Homo sapiens: one gene and its partners. The protein of the gene in region 1 purifies or fractionates together with the protein of each later gene. This does not show direct contact. Each region holds a gene or a part of one and is shown on either strand. Other genes may lie near its edges.

What was found. Proteins that work in one complex are often made in the same cells at the same time.
Region 2: the proteins of GPR35 (region 1) and POTEE purify together in Homo sapiens (affinity purification with mass spectrometry; 3 studies listed by BioGRID and IntAct, with this or other methods). This does not show direct contact.
Region 3: the proteins of GPR35 (region 1) and KTI12 purify together in Homo sapiens (affinity purification with mass spectrometry; 3 studies listed by BioGRID and IntAct, with this or other methods). This does not show direct contact.

The regions. Positions count from the first base shown.
Region 1 is NC_000002.12:240,620,641-240,628,496, reverse strand, and holds the start of GPR35 (G-protein coupled receptor 35), read right to left. Parts: upstream 3,018-7,856; 5' UTR 2,929-3,017; intron 1-2,928. UniProt on the Homo sapiens protein: G-protein coupled receptor that binds to several ligands including the tryptophan metabolite kynurenic acid (KYNA), lysophosphatidic acid (LPA) or 5-hydroxyindoleacetic acid (5-HIAA) with high affinity, leading to rapid and transient activation of numerous intracellular signaling pathways.
Region 2 is NC_000002.12:131,205,491-131,212,535, reverse strand, and holds the start of POTEE (POTE ankyrin domain family member E), read right to left. Parts: upstream 3,001-7,045; 5' UTR 2,717-3,000; intron 1,509-2,716; 5' UTR 1,353-1,508; intron 1-1,352.
Region 3 is NC_000001.11:52,031,603-52,038,307, forward strand, and holds KTI12 (protein KTI12 homolog), read right to left. Parts: upstream 2,209-6,705; 5' UTR 2,160-2,208; coding exon 1,095-2,159; 3' UTR 501-1,094; downstream 1-500.

The sequences.
Region 1 (7,856 bases):
TTCTGTCTCCTTAGATCCCACCTCTGGTGAAGTACAGCAGATATTTGCTGACTTCCAAGTTTCAGGAGCCCTTCCCCCGAGTGCAAAGTGCTGCACGCCCAGTGGTCTCTCTCCTCCCTTCTTGAGGGTCCTGCTTGCTTTCTCTCTGATTCATGAGCAACACTTCACCCTCGTTCCAGGGACTTTTGGAGGGACCCTGAGCCAGGCCAGGCTCCGAGGACATCCCCAGAACCCACTGGAACCAATCGCTGGGATCTTCCCTTCCTGTTGGGCCTATACTCCTGTGGCAGCCCCCGCTGGGGGCCAGGAGATCCCAGAACCTGCTCAGAATCTACACCTCAGAGGCACCTGAGCTGGGCAGGCACTGTGCGTTGGGGAGGGCTCCGTGCGACTGGCCTCCTACTCTCCCCACCTGAGTACTTGAATCCACCAGAAGTCCAGGGCCAGCCTTGGGCGGTGTGCAGACCTGGAGGGGGAGGGGGTCTGCACAGCTAGAGGGCGATTCTTTTGCTGCCCCACCTTGAGTAGAGGCAGCCTGGGACCCTGCCTCGTGGGAGGTGAGGACCCGAGGGCTCGTGTGCCTAGACCCCTTCCCATTGCCCCAGCTTCCCCCATCGCTCCCCATGGCTGCCAAGGGGCTCTCAGGTCACACATACCCAGGGCTGCAACTTTCATACTAGCCTCGGTGTGGCCCAGTATTTTGTGGGGGAATGTTTAACTGCAGGCAGGCACGGTGGCTCATGCCTGTAATCCCAACACTTTGGGAGGCTGAGACAGGAGGATGACTTGAGGCCAGAAGTTTAAGAACAACCTGGGCATCACAGGGAGACCCCGTCTCTACAAAAAAAAAAAAAAAAAAAAAAAAAAAGACAGAAAATTAGCTGGGCTGGTGATGCGTGCTACTCGGGAGGCTGAGGCAGGAAGACGGCTTGAGCCCAGGAGGTTGAGGCTGAAGTGAGCTATGATCCCACCACTGCACTCCAGCCTTAGGAGACAGAGTGAAACCCCATCTCTAAGAAGAAGAAAAAAACTCTAACTACAACATTTAAATTTTCCTGTTTATAATAAAACAAACACTGAACTATTAGGGAGAAAAATGCAAATGTTGCAAGAGTTTCGAGGTGCACGTAGGCTTCGAAGAAGTGCCCTGTTCATGGGTCCTTGTCTCGCCCGTGGAGTGCCTCCCAGAAAAGTTCAGGAAATCAAGGCCCAGGCTTTAGCCCAGATGGCATGGGGCCCCTGGGAGCTAACATGGCCAGCACAGATGCCCACCTACTGCCCCAGTCCCGCACAGGAATCTGTGTCCAGGCCGTGGACCGTAGCTGGCCTCCCGCCTCAGCTCCTCAGGCCTGTCTTCCTCGACAGACACCAGCACCATCAGCCTCAGGGAGCTCCCGCTGCCGGGGACCGTGGGGATGGGGCCCTTCCACTTCCTGCCCAGGAGGCTTTGGGGATTGGAGCCAGCAGCACGCCTCTGAGGCCCCGCTTCCCCTTCTGATGACAAGGTCACCCTCGGCTTCTGCACACAAAAGCAGAAAAGTGCCCTTTGATTCTGCACTGAGTGATCCAGGAGAGAAACCTGGCCATAGACGGGCGATCCAGCCACACCAGAGCCCCTCCCCAGCCCTTCCCCCTGTCTGGACCCGGGACCCGCCCAGACCCCAGAGTGCCTGGCTGGCCTGGGATTGAGACCACAGGCCCCAACCACTGCTGAAGACGTGGGGGCACGCAGTGAGGTGCAGATCCCTGTGGCCCAGGCACCAGAGTCCCCCGTACCTGTGACCCCACTGGGCCTGGGCCCCACACAGCACACCACACCCCAGGACCCAGGATGGGGCTGTGAGTGACACGAGTTCACCAAAGTAGCTGCTCACCTCGGGGCCACAGCACGGGGTATTCTTCATTCTTGTTTTTAAATGTCACATCCCACACTCCAACAAGCTGCTACCCAGACACAGGCTCCAAGTCTTCATCAGCCTCAGCCACCCCTGAGACCCCAACAGCCTCAGCCCACCTGAGACCCCAACACAGCCTCACCTCACTGAGACTCCCCATCACAGCCTCACCCCACTCTGAGACCCCATCACAGCCTCACCCCACTCTGAGACCCCATCAGAGCCTCACCCCACTCTGAGACCCCGTCACAGCCTCACCCCACTCTGAGACCCCGTCACAGCCTCACCCCGCTCTGAGACCCCATCACAGCCTCACCCCGCTCTGAGACCCCCATCACAGCCTCACCCCACTCTGAGACCCCCATCACAGCCTCACCCCACTCTGAGACCCCGTCACAGCCTCACCCCGCTCTGAGACCCCATCACAGCCTCACCCCGCTCTGAGACCCCCATCACAGCCTCACCCCGCTCTGAGACCCCCATCACAGCCTCACCCCGCTCTGAGACCCCGTCACAGCCTCACCCCACTCTGAGACCCCCATCACAGCCTCACCCCACTCTGAGACCCCATCACAGCCTCACCCCACTCTGAGACCCCATCACAGCCTCACCCTGCTCTGAGAACCCATCACAGCCTCACCCTGCTCTGAGAACCCATCACAGCCTCACCCCACTCTGAGACCCCATCAGAGCCTCACCCCACTCTGAGACCCCCATCACAGCCTCACCCCACTCTGAGACACCCATCACAGCCTCACCCCACTCTGAGACACCCATCACAGCCTCACCCCACTCTGAGACCCCATCACAGCCTCACCCTGCTCTGAGACCCCCATCACAGCCTCACCCCGCTCTGAGACCCTGTCACAGCCTCACCTCGCTCTGAGAACCCCCGTCACAGCCTCACCCCACTCTGAGACCCCATCATAGCCTCACCCTGCTCTGAGACCCCATCACAGCCTCACCCCACTCTGAGACCCCCACCATGCCCCTGCCCCGCTGGGAGGCCCCTAGGGCAGTGGGCGGCACTGACCTGCAGGCAGCTTTGGCCTCCCGGGTGGAGTGTGTGACCCCCGCTGCCAAAGCCTGCACAGTGGCTGTCTGAGAAGGGCTGGGGGAAGTGAAGCTGGGGTGAGCCACCCCTCAGGGCTGGTCCCTGACTCTGCCCCTCCTTAAGGTGGGGGGGCGGGCGGCTGACTGACGGCAGCAGGTCAGGGGTAACAGGAGTTCCCCACTGCTCCTGCACCAGCCCCAGCTAGAGGGCGTGGGGGATTTCTGGGAGGGAAGTGGGGTGCCGGCTGCCTGTGCTGACACCTCTGAAGAGCCAGCATCCTTGCTGAGGGCACACATTTGTTCTGGAAACAGCGTGAGAGACAGACAGCAAAACCAGAGACGCTCCAGCCCCGCCCACGGAGCCTTCCTCCTCCCCAGCCCACTTCTGCCCTGTCATCTCGGAAACCTTCCCAGGGCCCAGCCCTCCCAGGGTCTGCGGTCAGCTCGCCCTCCCCAGCGCCTCATGCCCAGCCCCAAGACAGGGTGCAGCACGCACACTCATCCTGGTTCATGCAGACACGCTCCGTGGGCGCCTTCCAATACACACACACACGCTGGCACACATGCACACACACATGCACACGCCAATGCACACAGGTGAGAGGCACACGCAGGCAGGCTGGCTCCTCCCCTGCTTCCCCCCGACTTGGCCACCGGCCCCTCCTCCAAGCCCACCCCCTCAGAAGCCTACCCAGACCACCCCTATCTGGTCTAGAATATTCTCCCTGGCCCCCAACTCCTCAGCGGACATCTTCCTTCTGAGCTCATGGTGGGGGAGCCCGTAGGCCCAGGCTGCGCCCCCATGGTGCAGAGCACCCCCTTCCTGGGCCCTGTCCACCCTGAGGGCAGGAGCCTCGTCTCCTCAACGTGGGCCCCACAGCCCCTGACCACAGCCTCTCCCTCCTCAACGGCTGGGATAGGCTGGGGAGAGCTTCAGTTTCACCCCTCCCCACTTTACAGCGGTGGAAACGGACGCCCAGGGAAGGGAAGCGCTTGGCCCAGCGTCACACAGGTGGTGGCAGGTCTGAGACCAGTGCCTGGGCCTCCTGAGCCAGACCAGGGCTCTCTACCCAGAGGCACGTGAGGAAGCCCTGGCTGGGCATTGGTCCTTCTCTGCTGTCATCCCGGGCCTGGTTCCTGTCCCTTTCTTCCTGCTTCCTCCTGCTGTCCTTCCTGCCCTTCCTCCTGCTTCCCCGGCTGTCCCTCCAGGCCCAGTCCCCAGTGTGCGCCCTTGGGTTCCCTGCCCAGTCTCCATGGGCCATGATGTTCATTGGAGAGGGGCCTCATCCTCGGGCAGGAGGCTCAGATTTGGGATTTCATCCATCCCTCACTCTGGCCACAGGGTCTGGCCTCTGGGGTCAGCAGAAGGCACGGCACCTGATCAGTCCAAGCCCGGCCGCCGTCAAGCAGGGACTGGAGGTGCAGGGCACGGCATCTCCCAGGAGTGCTCCTTCCACCTCTGGCAGATCAGATGGTGCCCCAAGCAGGCCTACCCAGCCCACCAGAGCCAGGGCCCTGCAGAGCTCCCCCACCCCCCCCACCACCAGGCCAGCCATGAACTCCACCGTGCCCCCTCTGCTGGGCATCACTCCTCCCCAGCAGTGGCCTGGGGCACCCCGTCCCCACCAGGCCTGGCCTCCCTGACGTGGCCTGGCACCTGTGCTCCTCACACACTGGAAGGGAAGCCCCACTGGGCAGGGCCACATGGTCCCAGCGGATTCTTCTGGGCTGTGTGGACTTGGGGAAGAAACTGGACATTTAGAGACTCTGACTGTCTCTGGGAAGGGCCCCTTGCCACCAGGTTCCACCTGTGTACAGGAAACGCTGTCCCCAGCCCACCCCCTACCTCTCTCCATCTGCCCCTTGGCTGTCTCCGCAGGCACTTCAGGGCAGTCCCACCCAGCCTGGAGCCTGGGCCCTCGTGCTCTGCCCCCTCCCACTCAGGCAGGCCTTGCCCGGGCCCCTCCAGAGCGCTGTTTCTCTCCTAGCTCCCCGCTCACCCCCAGGGCCCCTCTCTCCCCAAAGCTGCACCCTCACGACCTGTTTGCACCCTCACGACCTGTTTGCGCCCTCACGACCTGTTTGCACCCTCACGACCTGTTTGCGCCCTCACGACCTGTTTGCGCCCTCACGATCTGTTTGCGCCCTCACGACCTGTTTGCGCCCTCACGACCTGTTTGCGCCCTCACGACCTGTTTGCGCCCTCACGACCTGTTTGCGCCCTCACGACCTGTTTGCGCCCTCATGACCTGTTTCCAGCCCTTCACCCTGTTTGATTTTATCACAGAACTTATTTTTTAAGTAACCCTTTCTGCGCACTGGGCTTGTGCTTGTGGGACTCTATCTGCTTCCTGCCCTGTCGGGGCCCTGGCACAGAGCCCGGCCTCTGTGAAGCTCGACGACCGCTCACCCACAGCGACTCCGGCCGCGGGGCTGCGAGTGCCGGGGACATATCAGGTGCTCAGTCGTCGTCGGCGCCCGGCTCAGGCACGGTCGCCTGGGGTCCTCTGCTGCTGCTCAGGCCCTTCTTCGAGGACACCCGGAGTCCCCAGGTTCGAGAGGCCAGATGGCAGGTTTCCAGTCCAGGCCAGGCCTGTTCTCTCCCTGCTGGGCAGCTTCAGACCACCTGGCCCTCTGCGGAGAACTGGCAGCCAGGGTCCTGCTGTGGGCACGGGGGCACTGCCCGGGGCCCTCCGCCCCCAGCCTCTGCTCCTGGGCAGCTTCCTCTCCGAGGCTGCCCCCTCACCCCCAAGGTTAGCCCCCTGCAGCAGCGCCAGCCCCTCCCACTTCACCCCGCTGGGCTGTATGTGTGACGCGAGGAGCTCCGAACAGGATTCCTTCCTGCCCCTCCTCCTGCTTCTCCAGCTAGAGCTGCCGGACGCCACCCCTGCAGCCCTATCTAGGGGAGCCTCTGCAGCAAGCTTGTCCAACACTCGGGCTGCGGGCTTTGAATGTGGCCCAACACAAATTTGTAAACTTTCTTAAAACATTATGAGATTTACGCAGAGACCTTTTTTTGCTCATCAGCTATCGTGAGTGTTAGTGTATTTCATGTTTGGCCCAAGGCAATTCTTCTTATTCCAATGCGGCCCGGGGAAGCCAAAAGATTGGACAGCCCTGCTTTGAAGGGAAGTCTGTGAGGCGATGTCAGGGAAGCAGGAGCCTGGGAGAGCCAGAGAAAAGCCGTTTACGTTCAGCTCCACCTTGAGACCAATGAGGCACATACCTGCCAGCCACAGCCCATGGTCATACGATGTTTACAGCTAAAGCAGCAGCCAGTGACGCCTGCGTGGACACACTTCTATGACAGCAAAGTGTCCAAGTGCCCTGGTATCCAGAACAATATATGCTTTCCAGACAACTACCCTTGGCCGGACGCGGTGGCTCAGGCCTCTAATCCCAGCACTTTGGGAGGCCAAGGTGGGAGGTTGGCTTGAGCCCAGAAGTTTGAGACCAGCCTGGGCAACATAGCAAGACCCCATCTTTACAAAAAGTAAAAAAAAAAAAAATCAGCCACGCATGGGGGTGCATGCCTGTAATCCCAGCTACTCAGGAGGCTAAGGCGGGAGGAGCACCTGAGCCTGGGAGGCAGAGATTGCAATGAGCTGAGATCGTGCTACTGCACTCCAGCCTGGTTGCAACAGAGCAAGACCCCGTGACAGACAGTTTTCTTTAAATCAATAGAATAATACATGTTAGGCACAGTTTAGCTTAGTCTTTACACAGACGAGACCCCTGTATGAGAAAAAGTTAAAGCTGGGGTGTTCCCCCTCTTGCTTTCTGACGACACCCTGCTCTGTAATGGAGCAACTTTCAATAAACCCTCTCTTCTCACCACATTCTGACTTGCCTCCACTTCCTTCCTGAGTGAGACCCACGAAGCATGTCTTGAGGTCTGAATCGAGACTCCTTTTGCAGTGAAGCTGCCATCCTAAATGAGTCGCTTGGATCCTCATGCGTCCTTTGCATAGTTTTGGTTTACTAAAACAACACATTGGCTGGGTGCAGTGGCTCACATCTGTAATCCCAGCACTTTGAGAGGCCGAGGCAGGGGGATCACGAGGTCAGGAGTTCAAGACCAGCCTGGCCGACATGGTGAAACCCCATCTCTACTAAAAATACAAAAATTAGCTGGGCGTGGTGGCGCGTGCCTGTAGTCCCAGCTACTCGGGAAGCTGAGACAAGAGAATTGCTTGAACCCGGGAGGCGGAGGTTGTGGTGAGCCGAGATCACGCCACTGCACTCCAGCCTGGGCGATAGAGGGAGACTCCATCTCAAAAATAAATAAATAAATAAATAAGAAATAAAACAACACATTACGGTTTATCTTTATGACTGTTTTTCTGGTGTCCCTTCAAGCGCTGTGCCCCCGAGGCCAGTGCCTCACTTGCCCACCCAGCAGCTCAGGCAGACCAGTGGGGTCCTCTGTGTGGGGGCTCAGTTGTGGACCCCGAGAGAGGATGTGAGTACACCTCCCTCTTCTCGAGGTTTCCCTGTCACCCTCAGCACTTTCTGTTCCCCTCTTCACAGAACCAGGTCTGGAAGTGCACGTCCTGCTGGGAAACTCCCCTCCCCCACTGATCTTGCCTAAAGCCTGGCGGTGTCACTGTGAGGGGCTGGGGACCAGGACACAGGGTCTCTGTCCTAGATGCCCTGCTTTTGTGTGTATTTGATGTTTTCCATAATAAAAGTGTATAGAGAACTGAGTGTGTGGCCACAGAGGGGCAGGGGAGGGCAAAGCCTGTCAGCTGTGGGGCAGAGGAGGTAGCGGGCAGGGGTCCTGGGGGGTGGCTGCAGAAGACTAGCACCTGTGGCCTAAGGTCCCCTCCAGCCAAGACCCCGCCCTGTGCTCAGCCTCCTGTGATGGCCCCATCCCCACAGGGGGTCCCCACAGCCCAAGTGCAGGGC
Region 2 (7,045 bases), about 110 Mb from region 1:
AAGGCAATACAGTTCACTTAATAATCTCATAAATTAGAACTTACCCCGTGACTCCTGCATAGCTCCAAATATGTGAGAGAGATGAAATGGCTGTTTGCCACCAATATTTTTATGTGATGCTTCATTTTTTGATTCTCTGAATAACTACTTATAACGCATTAGCCCATTTATGCCAGAGGCTGCAATTTTTTGAATTTTTGCACGAGTGAAAAATCAAACCTTCTAATGACCTTGAGCAGTAGGATGTAATTAACTCCCTCATGCTTACCATTCCAATAATGGAACACTAGGCATAAGTGGTTTAACACAATCATGAAAGCATAGCTATTCAAGTAACTAATTATACAACTGATTTTTTTCCTCATCCCTAAAACATAGTAAAGGACCAGTTATTTTAAAAATACAACACAGTGACAATTTTGGCTTGTTGTTTGTTAAGGCCATTGCTTGGCATAAAGAAAACAAAAAGAGGAGGAGAAACAAGAATAGAAACATGAAATAGAAGCAGCAGCAAAAGAAAATGAAGAGGAACAAGAAGATGAGAAGAATACACAGACTAGAAAAAGCAAAAAGAACAGGTGCAGGAATTAGAAGGCCTATTATGACACCTTTTATCCCCTCCCCAATTCACAAAATTTGAAAAAGTCCAAGACCATCACAACAAAAAAGAAGGAAAAAATGACCGGGAGTGGTGGCTCACGCCTATAATCCTAGCACTTTGGGAGGCCAAGGTGGGCGGATCATGAGGTCAGGTGATCTAGACCATCCTGGCCAACACTGTGAAACCCCATCTCTACTAAAAATACAAAAATAAAATTGGCTGGGCGTGGTGGCAGGCGCCTGTAGTCCCAGCTACTAGGGAGGCTGAGGCAGGAGGATGGGGTGAACCCAGGAAGCAGAGCTTGCAGTGAGCCGAGATCGCACCACTGCACTCCAGCCTGGGCAAAAGAGCGAGACTCTGTCTCAAAAAAAAAAAAAAAAAAAAAAAAAAAAGCCACACACACACACACACACAGTCACCCCCTAAATTTTGTTAAGAATGAGACAATGCTGCCACTCATGCCTGGCTCAGAAGGAGGCCACCCTCCAGAGATTGCAAGAGAAGGGGGAGGACTCCTTTCCCTAAGTGCACCTCCACCACTGCCACCGAGGCCCATGGTACAGCACCAGCAGGTTCCTCCCCACCCCAGGTCGGACTGGGCCCTGCAGTGCTCCTACTCCCCCTTCCCAGTCCCCAGACTTTCTGCCACTACCACCACTAGCACCAATGCCAATACAGTTGCTGTCGCCGTCAATGCAGCAGCCCACCCTACAAGGTTCCTACCACCTTGCCCCCGCGGGCACCCTCCTACCACTCCTGTCGAGCTGCAGTCTCCGTGGCTGCCATCAGTCACACGAGGCGAGCTGCAGAGTCACGCCACATGCAGGCTCCAGCGTACCACAGGTGATTCCTTCTCCTCCTCCTCCAGCCTGGCTTGGAGCAGCTAGACCGGCAAAGCCAGAAAAGCCTAGAATGGGATGCAGGGAGTGGTAACGTTAGAGCCTCACCTTGTCATGCTGGCCACTGGGTGGCAGGGACCAGCTTCAGCTAAGGCACTCACACCCACCCACCGAAGTCCAGCCTCTCTTTCTGGCAAAAGGTGGCCAGGAACTGGGGCGGGTGTGAGTGCCTATGCTGAAACCACCCCCATCCAGGTGCAACTGGCCAGAAATTGCTGGGCCCACCAGGGCTGCACTCCTTGGGGAGCAGGAGTAGGAGAAACTCAGACCCAGCCAGCCCTCCCCACTCAACTGCTGGTTCCCGTTCCTGACACCTCCACCCACAGTGCCCTGTTCCCACAGTCCCCCGCGATGCCCACTAATCCCCACCCGGTAGTCCCAGGTGGTCTCCCCAACACAGAGCATGGGGTGTGGGCGGGAGGTGCAGGCCGGAGAACCGCAGTGGGTGTGGGGGCCCTGCCCTGCTCAAGATTGCACGAGCAGGAACTCTGGAGTCTGGAAAAGAGAAGAGTTACCCGAAGGAGCAAGGAGACCATGGCTGTTGCTGTCCCCACCACCTCTGCAGCCGACCAACACCACTGGCAGTATAGCCCCCATAGCAACCCTAACCTGACCCCTGCCGCCGGCAGTGTAGCCCCCGGACAGCACACCCAACACACCCTGTGCCAGTTGCAGGCAGTGTAACCCCAATACCCCCCCCCAACCACCCCTTCCACAGGCAGTGTAGCACCCGATAGTGCCCACAACCTGACCCAGCCACAGGTGTTGCTGCACAAGACAGTGCCCCAAAATCGCCGCCCCCACCCCACCACAGGTAGCGCAGCTCCTGATAGCGCACCCTGAGTAAGGGCAGTGCAGCACCCGACAACACTCCTAAACCACCCCCCGCTGCCAGCATTGTAGCTCCAAATAACCACCCAAACCACTCCCTGCCCCGGGCAGTGCAGCAGAAAATAGTGCCCCTAACCCCTCCCCCGCCACCGGCAGTACACGTTAGTGCACACAACCTGCCTCCCCCCCACCACCCCCGCCACCACGGGCAGTGTAGCCCCGGACAGCCAGCCAAAACCGCCCCCCTCCACCGCCAGCAATGCAACCTCGGAGAGTGCCCCCAACCAGCCCCCTGACACAGGCAGTGCAGCCTCGGGCAGTGAGCCCCAATAGGACACCCAACCCCTGCCCCCACAGGCGGGCAGTACATCCCCGGATAACTCACCTACACCAGGACATTTCTACCACTCTGGCCGAGCTGCAGTGTCCCACGTCACCACCAAACACAGCAAGGCGAGCCCCAGGGGCTCAGGCTCCAGCCTCCAGCATGCGTCGGTGCTGCTCCCTTCTACTCGTCTTCCTGCCTGGCAGGAGAAGCTCCCGCTACTAGTTGCCCTCCTACCGCTCTGTGGACACCACCAACTGCAGTGAGCCAGTGTCCGAGGCTCCAGCCAGAAACAGGTAGCAGCCATGCCGGTTACCAAACGCCCACACTTAAGAGCCTGAAATGACCTGACGCCACCTCCGCATGCTTTACGTACTGAGGTTACGCACATGTGGTTCCCAGACTACATGTTCTGATTGGATGAGAGAAAAACCTCTAGGCCTACTCTGATTGGACTTTATTTTCATGCTGTGATTGGTTGTCTTAAGACTGGCTCTCATCCAATCAGAACATGATAATAAAGTCCAATCCAAGTAACCCTGGAGGGTTTTTCTCATCCAATCAGAACATGCAGTCAGGAATCCTCCTGTATATAACCGCGGTATACGCCTGCTGCTGAAGGGAAGTCAGGCTCTTCCACGTTCCCGTATTTTCCTGTGGAGCTGCTCAGTGCCCGGCTTAGAGGACCAGGAATGGGTAATCACCAGCCGTACGCTGGAGGCTGGAGCCGCTACACCGTGGCTCGCCTCGCTGCGACTGGTGGTAACCGCGACCGAGACGGCAGTGCGGCGGAAGCGGTAAGAGGAGGAAAAGAGTTTTGGGATAGATGGAGGGGGTAAAGAGGGTGGTTAGTGCCAAAGGGAAGAGAGGATAGTGAGCAGGAGAGCGCGTTGCAAAAAGGCGGTGGGGAAAAGATAGTGGGAAAAAAAGTTTTTGGGTAGATGGAGGGAGAAAAACGGGGTGGGGAGCGGCAGGGAGGGAAGGTTTTGCAGAAAGATGGTGGGTAAAATGTTTATGGGTAGATGGAGGAGGAAAAGAGGGTGGCAAGGGAGGAGGAAAGAGAGGGTGGTGGGGGGGAGAAACAGCGTTGAGCAGTAGAGAGAGAAGGTTTTGTGAAAAGACAGTGGGGAGAAAAGGTTTTGGGTAGATAGAGGGGGAAAAGAGGGTAACAGGTGGGGGAAGGGAAAAGGGTAGCCAGCGGGAGGAAGACAAGGTTTTGCAAAAAGATAGTGGGCAGGAAAGAAAGACGGTGGAGAAAGAAAAGACAGTGGGTAAAAAGTGTTTGGGTAGATGGTGGGGGGAAAGAGGGTAACGAGGAGGAGGAAAGAGGGTGACGAGAGGGAGCAGGGAAAGAGAGTTGGGGAAAAAATGGGAAAATAGTTTGGGGTAGATGGAAGGCAAAAAAGAGAGTGGCAAGCAGGATAGGGCAAAGAAGAGGACGAGTGGGAAGGGGGGAAGACTGTGAAAAGACAGTAGGGAATATTCTGGGGGGTGGATGGAGGGGGAAAAGGGGAGGTGAGCAGGAGTGGGGAGAAGGCTTTGCGAAAAGACTATGGGGAAATGTTTTTGGGTAGAGAAGGGAAAGAGGGTGGCAAGGAGGAGCGGGGGAAAAGACGATGAGGAAAACAGTTTTCGGGTAGATGAAGGGCGAAAAAGTGGTGAGCAGCAGGAGTGAGGAGAAGGGTTTGGGAAAAGACGGGAGAAAATGTTTTTGCTTAGATGAAGGAGCAAAAGAGGGTGATGAGAGTGGGATGGGGGAAAAGAAGGTGGCCAGGGAGAAAGGGAAAAGACGGTGGGAAAAAACAGTGGGGAAAGTGGGTAAGTGGATGGGGAAAAGGGTGGTGAGTGAGAGAGCAGAGAAGGCTTTGCGAAATGACGGTAGGGAAAAATGGTGGGGAAAAAGTTTTGGGGTAGATGGAGGAAGAAAACGGGTGGCGAGGGGGAGGAGGCCAAAGGCGGTCGGGAAAAGAAGGTGGGAAAATAATGGTGGGAGACAAAGATTTGGGGTAGATTTTTTTTTAATCAAATTATTTGTATTTTTGCTTTTGAGTAGTTATTTATATATTTTGTGTATTAGCCCCTTGGCTGATGCATAGTTTGCAAATACTTTCTTCCATTCTCTGGGTTGTTTCTTCGTTCTACTGATTTCTTCCTGTGCTTTGCAGAAGCTTTTAAGTTTTATGTAATTACATCTTTGCTTTTGTTGCTTGTGCTTTTGACAAGTTTAATGTAATTACATCTTTGCTTTTGTTGCTTGTGCTTTTGATGTCTATTTGAAAATTCCTTGTCCTAACCAGTTTCATGAAGCATTTATCCTATGTTTTCTTCTCTAGTAGTTTTATAGTTTCAGGTCCTACATTTAAATCTTTATTTTGAGCAGATTTTTGTATATGGTAAGATAACGGCCTAGATGTATTCCTGCACATGTGGGTGTTGAGTTATCCTAGCAGTTTATTGAAGAGATTGTCCTTCCCGAATGTGTGTTCTTGGTGCCTTTGTTAAAAATGAGTACGCCATAAATGTGTGAATTTATTTCTGATTTCTCTATTCTGTTTCACTTGTCTATGTCTGTCATTCCTTCGTTTCTGTTTCTCCCCCGCCCCTTTTTTTGATAGTATTATGCTGTTTTGGTATTACCATGCTTACTACAGATTTGTAGTATGTTTTGAAGTCAGGTGTGATGCCTCCAGCTTTTCTTTTTATTCCAGATTCTTTTGTCTATCTGAGGTATTTTGCGTTTCCATGTGAATTTTAGGATTTTTTTTTCCTATTTCTATGAAGAATGTCTTTTGTAATTTAACATGGATTGCATTGACTCTCTAGATCACATTGGGTGATATAGACATTTTAACAATATTCTTCTAGTGCATGGACATGGGATATCTTTCCATTTACTTGTGTCTGCTTTAATAGCTTTCATCTGTGTTTTAGAGTTTCCATTGTGGGATCTTTTGTCTTTTTGGTTAAGTTTATCCCTAGATATAATTTTTTTGGTAATGAAATAGCTTTCTTGATTTCCTTCTTAGGTATTTCACTATTGGTGCATGGGTGTGCTGATATTGTATCTTGCAACTTGACTAAATTATTTCCTGTAGGTGATTTTGTGGAATCTTTAGGGTTCTCTCTTTCTCTATGTATATATATATGATCATGTCACCTGCAAACAGAGACAGTTTGACTTCCTTTTTTCCAATTTGGATGCCTTTTATTGCATTCTCTTGTCTAATTGCGCTACCTAGGACTTCCAGTACTATGATGAATAAAAGTGGTGTAAAAGTAGCCACACTCGTTCCAGGCCTTAGAGGAAGAGTTTTAACCTTTCCCCATTGATTATGATGTTAGCTGTGGGTTTATCATATATGGCCTTTATTGCGCTATGTTCCTTCTGTACTCATGTTGTTCAGTTTTTGCCATGAAGGAATGTTGATTTTTATTTTTTTCAGCATCTACTGAAATGATTATATGGTTTTTGTTCCTGATTCGCTGAATGTGATGTCGTACATTTATTTATTTGTGTTTTATTGAATCATCCTCATATTCCTGGGATGAATCCCACTTGATCATGGCAGATCATCTTTTTATTGTGTTGTCAAGTGCAATTTTCAAGTATTTTGCTGAGGATTTTTTTGCATCTGTGTTTATCAGGGATATTTAAAATGCCTGTGGCTTTCTTTTTGTGTTGTTTCCTGGTCTGGTTTTTGTACCAGGATCATGCTGTCCTCATAGAACAAGTTTCGAAGACTTCCTTTCTCTTCACTTTTTGGGGAATATTTTGAGTAAAATTGGTATTAGCTCTTTTAAAAATGTTTGGTAGAATTCAGCAGTAAAACCATGATTCTTGTGTTTTTGTTTGACGGAAGACTTTTTATTACTGCTTTAATTATATTACTCATTATTGATCTGTTCCGGTTTTTTGTTTATCATTCTATCTTGGGAATTTGTTATGTGTCCAGAAATTTATCACTTCTCCTAGATTTTCCAACTTGTTTTTATATAGGTGTTTTTAGTAATCTCTTACAATCCTTCATATTTCTGTGTTATCACTTGCAATGTCTCATTTTTCATCTATGATTTTTTCTTTTTCTTTTCCTTAGTCTAGTTAAAGCTTGTCAGTTTTGATTTTTTTCTAAAAAATCCAGCTCTTTGTTCCATTGACTTTTTGTATTTTTTGTTTCTATTTTTAAAATTTCTTCTCTAATCTTTATGATATTTTTGTACTAATTTTAGCATTTTATTTTTCTCATTTTTCTCACTACTTCAGGTGTACTGTCAGGTTGGCTATTTGAGATCTTTCTACTTCTCTGATGTAGGTGTTTATAGCTATGCCCTTTTCCTCTTACAACTGCTTTTGCTGCATCCCACAGGATTTGTTATGTTGTGTTTCTATTA
Region 3 (6,705 bases), on another chromosome or scaffold:
GTGCCTCAGCCTCCAGAGTAGCTGGGATTACAGGCACACCATCACGCCCAACTAATTTTTGTACTGTTAATAGAGACGAGGTTTTGCCACGTTGGCCAGGCTGGTCTCGAACTCCTGACCTCGATTTTGGACTCCCAAAGTGCTGGGATTACAAGTATGAGCCACCACACCCGGCTTCTCACCACATATCTCAAGAGCAAAAACACTGTATCTAATTGGTCTTTGAAAATCACAGCCACTGTTAAAGTAGGTACCTACCATTTGTTCAATGAAATCAATGAAGAATGAAAGACAAGCTTACAATGATATTTGCCTTGAAATGCAGAATGAAGCAAAACAGTTACGGAAATTGTCATAATATAATTACTGTAGAGTAGCTCAAAACATCTACTCTCTCAGAACTATCAAAATACTACTTCACTTAAAGGCAGAACAATGACAAGTATACCTAAAATGTTACATGAAGTTACACAGGGAACATTAAGTGAAAGAGATTCCAGTAGACTATTTTAAAAGATTTTATTAGAGGAAATAATCTAGTAGATAACTTTCTTACTTCCACAAAAACAAAGTTTCTCAAGGATACAAACCAATGGATTTATCTGTGAACTCGGTCCCAGAATAGAAACTAGCAAAAAGTCAGTACAGTACTCAAAAAATACTTTTGTGGTATGAAAAAAGGGCAGGTGCAGATGTAGAACTGTACCATCTTCAGTTTCTGTTCACAATTGTTTTAAAACAATTCTCATCTATCCAGTCTGCTCTCCCACGCCTCAGATGAGGGAAGCCAATGGTCAATGCTCTGTGATAGCCCAAGTAGGATCCAATCTAGGTAATCCCTGTCCACCTTAGCTCTGTCCTCTGAGGGATTTGCCAGGTTGCACCACAATAGTTCTCCATTCTCTTTAGTCTGAACTTATGCTGTAAACCCAAGGCCTGGCACAGGGGTATGCAGGAAAGTTTGAGTGAATCAGTCACAACAGCTCTAGTACAGTACTGCATCGATATGCTCTGGAGACCTGCAGCCTATTTTTCCCAGAGAAATAAAGTGGAGTGGAGATCAGAAGCCATGGCTTCCCCCCTACCTCCTCTGGTCAGTGCAGGCTCTGGCTCAAATACTGAAGAAACATGTTGGCCAGTTGCGGCAAGTTCTCATTGTTGGGATGCATTTTAGTGTACGAAATAAACTGGCGACGAAGGCGACTCAGTTCTGCCATGGTCAAGGGCCGGGTAAACCGCAAGTGCTCTGTGGTACCAGGAAGCGTGAGCAAGTCCCCGGGGACAGCGCTCTTCTGCGCTTCCATCAATCCGGCCAGTACTTGACTCGTGACCTGGTCCAACTGGTGCAGAAAGCTGCCGGAGGCGAGGGGCTGGGACTGCGTAGACTGATGGGGTGGTGGGGCCCGGTTCTCAAACAGGGCAGAGCGGATCCCCGCCAGGGGCAACGGCTCCTCTAGGCCCACCAAAGTGAATAAAGGCCGGTCCCAGCGATTCCGAGAATCGGGAGCCTCAAAGCGCAGCGTTAGGGCCTCCAGGAGTTCGGGAGAGTAAAAGGCACCGGACCCATGCTTTGCAGATTTCTCTGAATCCGGAGTCACAAGAGCTGGAGACTCCGCAGCCCCGGATTCTTCTCGCTCCAGTTCCTTGGGTACGTCGGCCTGGGCACTTCCATTTACTACAGAGTCCGCAGTATGCAGTTCCCTGAGGACGCTGCTGCCCGCCGCCTGGGCTCTCCCGTCCTCCTCAGCGCGTGGCCGCCAACTCACACTGACGTTCCGGCCAGGGTTCTCGTTCGCGCCCGCCACCTGAGGTCCCGCGATCGGGCCGCCGGGCCGTACGCAGTAGACCAGGCAGAGCGGGGTGCGCGCCGCCCGTGCCAGGCAGTAGAGCTCGTAACGGAAACCTTTGATGTAGTTAAGCGAGTCCAGGATGACCACGTCGTGGCGACTCAGGCGCCGTTCCACGGAGGCTCGCAGAGCTCCACGCAATGCCTTCTCACGGGCAGAATCGCCGTACACCGCTGGGTCCTCTGCGCCCAGGACAGCTGCGTCGTCCACCACGTACACCGCGCGGCCCTCGGCAGCCAGCGCCACGCGCAACTCTTCAGCACGCCGGCTCTTGCCGCTGTACGGCAGCCCGCAAAACACCACGAGCGGCATCCTCTCAGGGAGCGACCATTGGCAACCGCGCTGCGCCAACTTCCGGGTTGTACGCGTCTCCGACGTAAGCCGGAAGTGCAAACTGCTCTTCCTGTCTCCCTTGACTTTTACAGACCCTCTTGTTTCTATGGAAACAGGAGTTCTACGCCAGCTAGGCCCAGGTTCAGCTTTCTCAGAAAGGAGATACAGAGACTATAATGGCATCAGTTATTTATGCCAAATGTTATAGGCCTCAGGAGAATGTGATCTTCCTGCAGCGAAAGACTGCCCGTCCATTTTATTAATAAGGCCTAAGGGGCATTAAATATTGTAAGCAATCAGCACTATATTTAGCATATAGAAGGCAATTAATAAATGCTGGTTCTCCTTCATTCCTCCTCTTAAACCTACTGGCTCTCAGTAAATGTTTATTCAATTACCATTTCAATCATTCAACATCTCCAAGGTTGGGAATTCAGAGATGAACATAAAACGCTTTCCCCACAAAAGATAAAAGGTCTGAATGGGAAGGATCAGGCGCCTACAATCAGAGTAATAAATACTATAATGGATAGATGCAGGTGAGGTTATAAAAGAACAGAAGGGAAAAACAAACTACCCAGAGAAATCACTGAAGACTTTATGTAGAAATAGTCATTTGACTTAGAACTTGAAAGACAAATAGGAATTTTTCTCCTTAGTAGGGTTGCCAGATAAAATACAGGATGCCCAGTTACATTTGAATTTCAGATAAACACCAAAAACATTTTTAAGCTTAAGTGTGTCCCAAATATTGCATAGACATATTTAAAATTATTTGGTGCTTATCTAAACTTCAAATTTAACTGGGCATCTTTAATTTATTATTATTATTTATTTTTTCTTTTTTAGAGATGAGGTTGTATGTTGCTAAGGCTGGTCTCAAACTCCTGGGCTCAAGTAATTGTGCCACCTCTGCCTCCCAAAGTACTGGGAATACAGGTGTGTGAGCCAAGGTGCCTGGCCTGCATCCTTTATTTTATTTTATTATTATTATTTTTTGAGATGGAGCCTCGCTCTGTCACCCAGCCTGGACCACAGTGGTATGATCTCAGCTCCCTGCAACCTCCACCTCCTGAGTTCAAGCGATTCTCCTGTCTCAGCCTCCCAAGTAGCTGGGACTATGGGTGTGCGCCACCATATCTGGCTAATTTTTGTATTTTTAGTAGAGACGGGGTTTCACTATGTTGGCCAGGCTGGTCTCAAACTCCTGACCCCAGGTGATCCACTGGCCTTGGCTTCCCAAAGTGCTGGGGTTAAAGGCATGAGCCACTGTGCCTGGCCATCCGTTATTTTTATTTGCTCAATCTGGCAACTCTATTATTGTAGGTTTGAGACCCAGAGCCATGAAACTGTTGGATCTCTTGTATAAACAGCAAGCACTATAGGATGGTAGGTGCAGAAATGTGAGTGTGCCTGTGCATGTGTGTATATTGTAGATGCACATATACTGGGGTCTTTGTATCTCTCTTGTACAGTATAGTAAAAAACATTCAAGTCTTGGCTCCTCCACTTACTAGTGTTGTAACTACTGGCAAATTATGTAACTTTTCTGTACTTCAATTTCCCCTTCTATAAAATAACAACTGCTATTTCACAGGTTTACCAATCTGTAGGTTGTTGTGAGGGTTAAATAAATGTAAACACAGGCCCGGCATGGTGGCTCGCGCCTGTAATCCCAGCACTTTGGGAGGCAGAGGGTAGATCACCTGAGGTCAGGAGCTCGAGACCAGTCTGGCCAACATGGTGAAACCCTGTCTCTACTAAAAATACTTTTTAAAAAATTAGTCGGGTGGGGTAGCGTGTGCCTGTAATCCCATTACTGAGGAGGCTGAGGCAGGAGAATTGCTTGAACCCGGGATGCGGAGGTTGCAGTGAGCCTAGATCGCACCACTGCACTCCAGCCTGGGCAATAAGAGCGAAACTCTGTCTCAAACAAAAAAAAAGTAAACACAGACCAGTGCTTAGCTTTCCCTCCCCTGCCCTGCCTTTTCCTCCTCCTTATGCACTGAATTGTCTGTGCATAAACTAAACCTACTTGAGACTTTACAGACTATTCAACTTGATTCTAGCAGGCAGTATGGTATACAGGTTTAAAGAGCAGGCTCTGAAGCCAGAGTGCTTGGGTCTGCCACTTGCTAGCTGTGTGCTCTTGGGCAAGTTATTTTAGTAAACTTAGAAAAAACGGTGCCTTACTTTTTTCATCTCTAAAATTAAGATAACAATAATACCAATCTCAAAAAGTTGTTGTGAGAGTTAAATGAGTTGATTTGCATAATTTAATGCCTAATGCACAGTAGCACTTAGTACAGCTGACCCTTGAACAACCCCAGGATGAGGGGCACTGACCCCTGACACCATCAAAAATCAGCATATACCTTTTGACTCCCTAAAACTTAACTATTAATAGCCTACTGTTGACTGGAAGCCTTACTAATAATATATTCAGTTAACACATATTTTGAATGTAATATTATATATTGTATTCTTACAATAAAGTAAACTAGAGAAAAGAAAATGTTATTAAGAAAATCTTTCCAGGAAGCAGGGGGGCAAAAAAGAAGAAAAAGAAAATCATAAAGAAGCAAAAATATATTTAGTATTCATTAAGTGGAAATGGATACTCATAAAGGTCTTCATCCTTGTCTTCACACTGAGTAGGCTGAGGAGGAGGAGGAAGAGGAAGAGGAGAGGTTGGTCTTGCTGTCTCAGGATGGCAGAGGCAGAAGAGGGTGGAAGGGGAGGTAGAACAGGCAGGCACACTTGGTGTAACTTTATGGAAATATAATTTCTGTCTGATTTTGTTGCTTTTTCATTTCTCTAAAAATGTTTCTATACAATACCAATCTTTTTTCTTTGCTTTAGTTTCAGGGCACATATCTTAGAAGGGTCCATGTTGTAAAATAAGTCAAAAGCAGCTCTAAATAATTAGAACCTTCTGCCAGATCTGTTTTCTGGCACTGCCTCTTCTACGTGTTTTTCCTCATCATCTGGCACTCATCTCCATCAAGTTATCTTCTGTTCATTCCTCTGGTTTGGTGTCTATTAGCTCTTGAATTTATCCAAGATCATATCTTAAAACCCTTTACCCCTCACCTTTTTTTGCCATATCCACAATCTCTTTCATGATTTTGATTATCTGTCATAAACCCTGTGAAGTCTTGTGTACATCTGGACACAGTTTTATCCAGCAGGAATTTATTGTTTCAGGCTTGATGGTCTTCACAGCTATTTCTATAACGACAATGGCATCTTCAACGATATAATCCTCCTAAACTTTCATGATGTTCTCTTTATTGCAGTTCTCTTCCATAGCTTTGACAATCTGTTTTCTAGAGAGTACTGTGTGTAATGAACCTTAAAGGTCCTTATCACCCCCTGATGTAGTAGCTGATTTAAATATTGTGTTTGGAGGCAAATAGACCACCTTTTTTTTTTTTTTTTTTTTTTGAGACAGAATTTCACTCTTGTTGCCTAGGCTGGAATGCAATGGCACGATCTCAGCTCACTGCAACCTCCACCTCCCAGGTTCAAGCAATTCTCCTGCCTCAGCCTCCTGATTAGCTGGGATTACAGGCATGTGCCACCACGCCCGGCGAATTTTGTATTTTTAGTAGAGACTGGGTTTCTCCGTGTTGGTCAGGCTGGTCTGGAACTCCCAACTTCAGGTGATCCCCCGACCTCGGCCTCCCAAGTGCTGGGATTACAGGCATGAGCCACTGGGCCCAGCCGCAAATAGACTTTTTAATTTGCCTTTGGTGCTGAACTCATGGGGCTCTGGGTGGCCAGAGTATTGTCCAACATCAAAAGAACTTTAAAAGGTAGTCTCTTACTGGCAAGGTACTTCCTGACTTCAGGGACAAAGCATTGATGGAACCAATCCAGAAAAAGGGTTCTTGTTGTCTAAGCCTTCTTATTGCACAACCTAAACACTGGCAGCTGGTGTTTATCTTTGCTCTTCGAGGCTGGAGGTTAACAGCTTTATAGACAAGGGCAGTTCTGATGACAAACTTGACTCAAACTCCTGGGCTCTGGTAATCGTCCCACCTCTGCCTCCCAAAGTGCTGGGTTTTTTTGCACAAAAGAGTAGAGTTAGCCTGTCTCTTCTTGCCTTCAATGTTGGTACTTGCTTCTCTTCCTATTTTTTTTTTTCCTTTTTAAAAACTGAAATAGGGTCTTATTCTGTTGCCCAGGCTACAGTTCAGTGGTGCACTCATGGCTAACTGCAGCCTCAATCTTCCAGGCTCAAGCAATCCTCCCACCTCAGACTCCTGAGTAGCAGGAACAACAGGTGTGTGCCACCACACCCAGCTAATTTTTGTACTTTTTGTAGAGACAGAGTTTCCCATGTTGCCCAGGTTGGTCTTCCTTACTATTAATGTCCTTTGTGGCTTTTTTTTTCCAGAGTAGGGTACCTTAATCTGCATTAAACACCTGTTCAGGCAGATATCCTTTCTCTTCAATGATTTTCTTAACGGTGTCTGAGAATTCATCTGCTGCCTCTTGGTCAGCATAAGCTGCTTCTCCT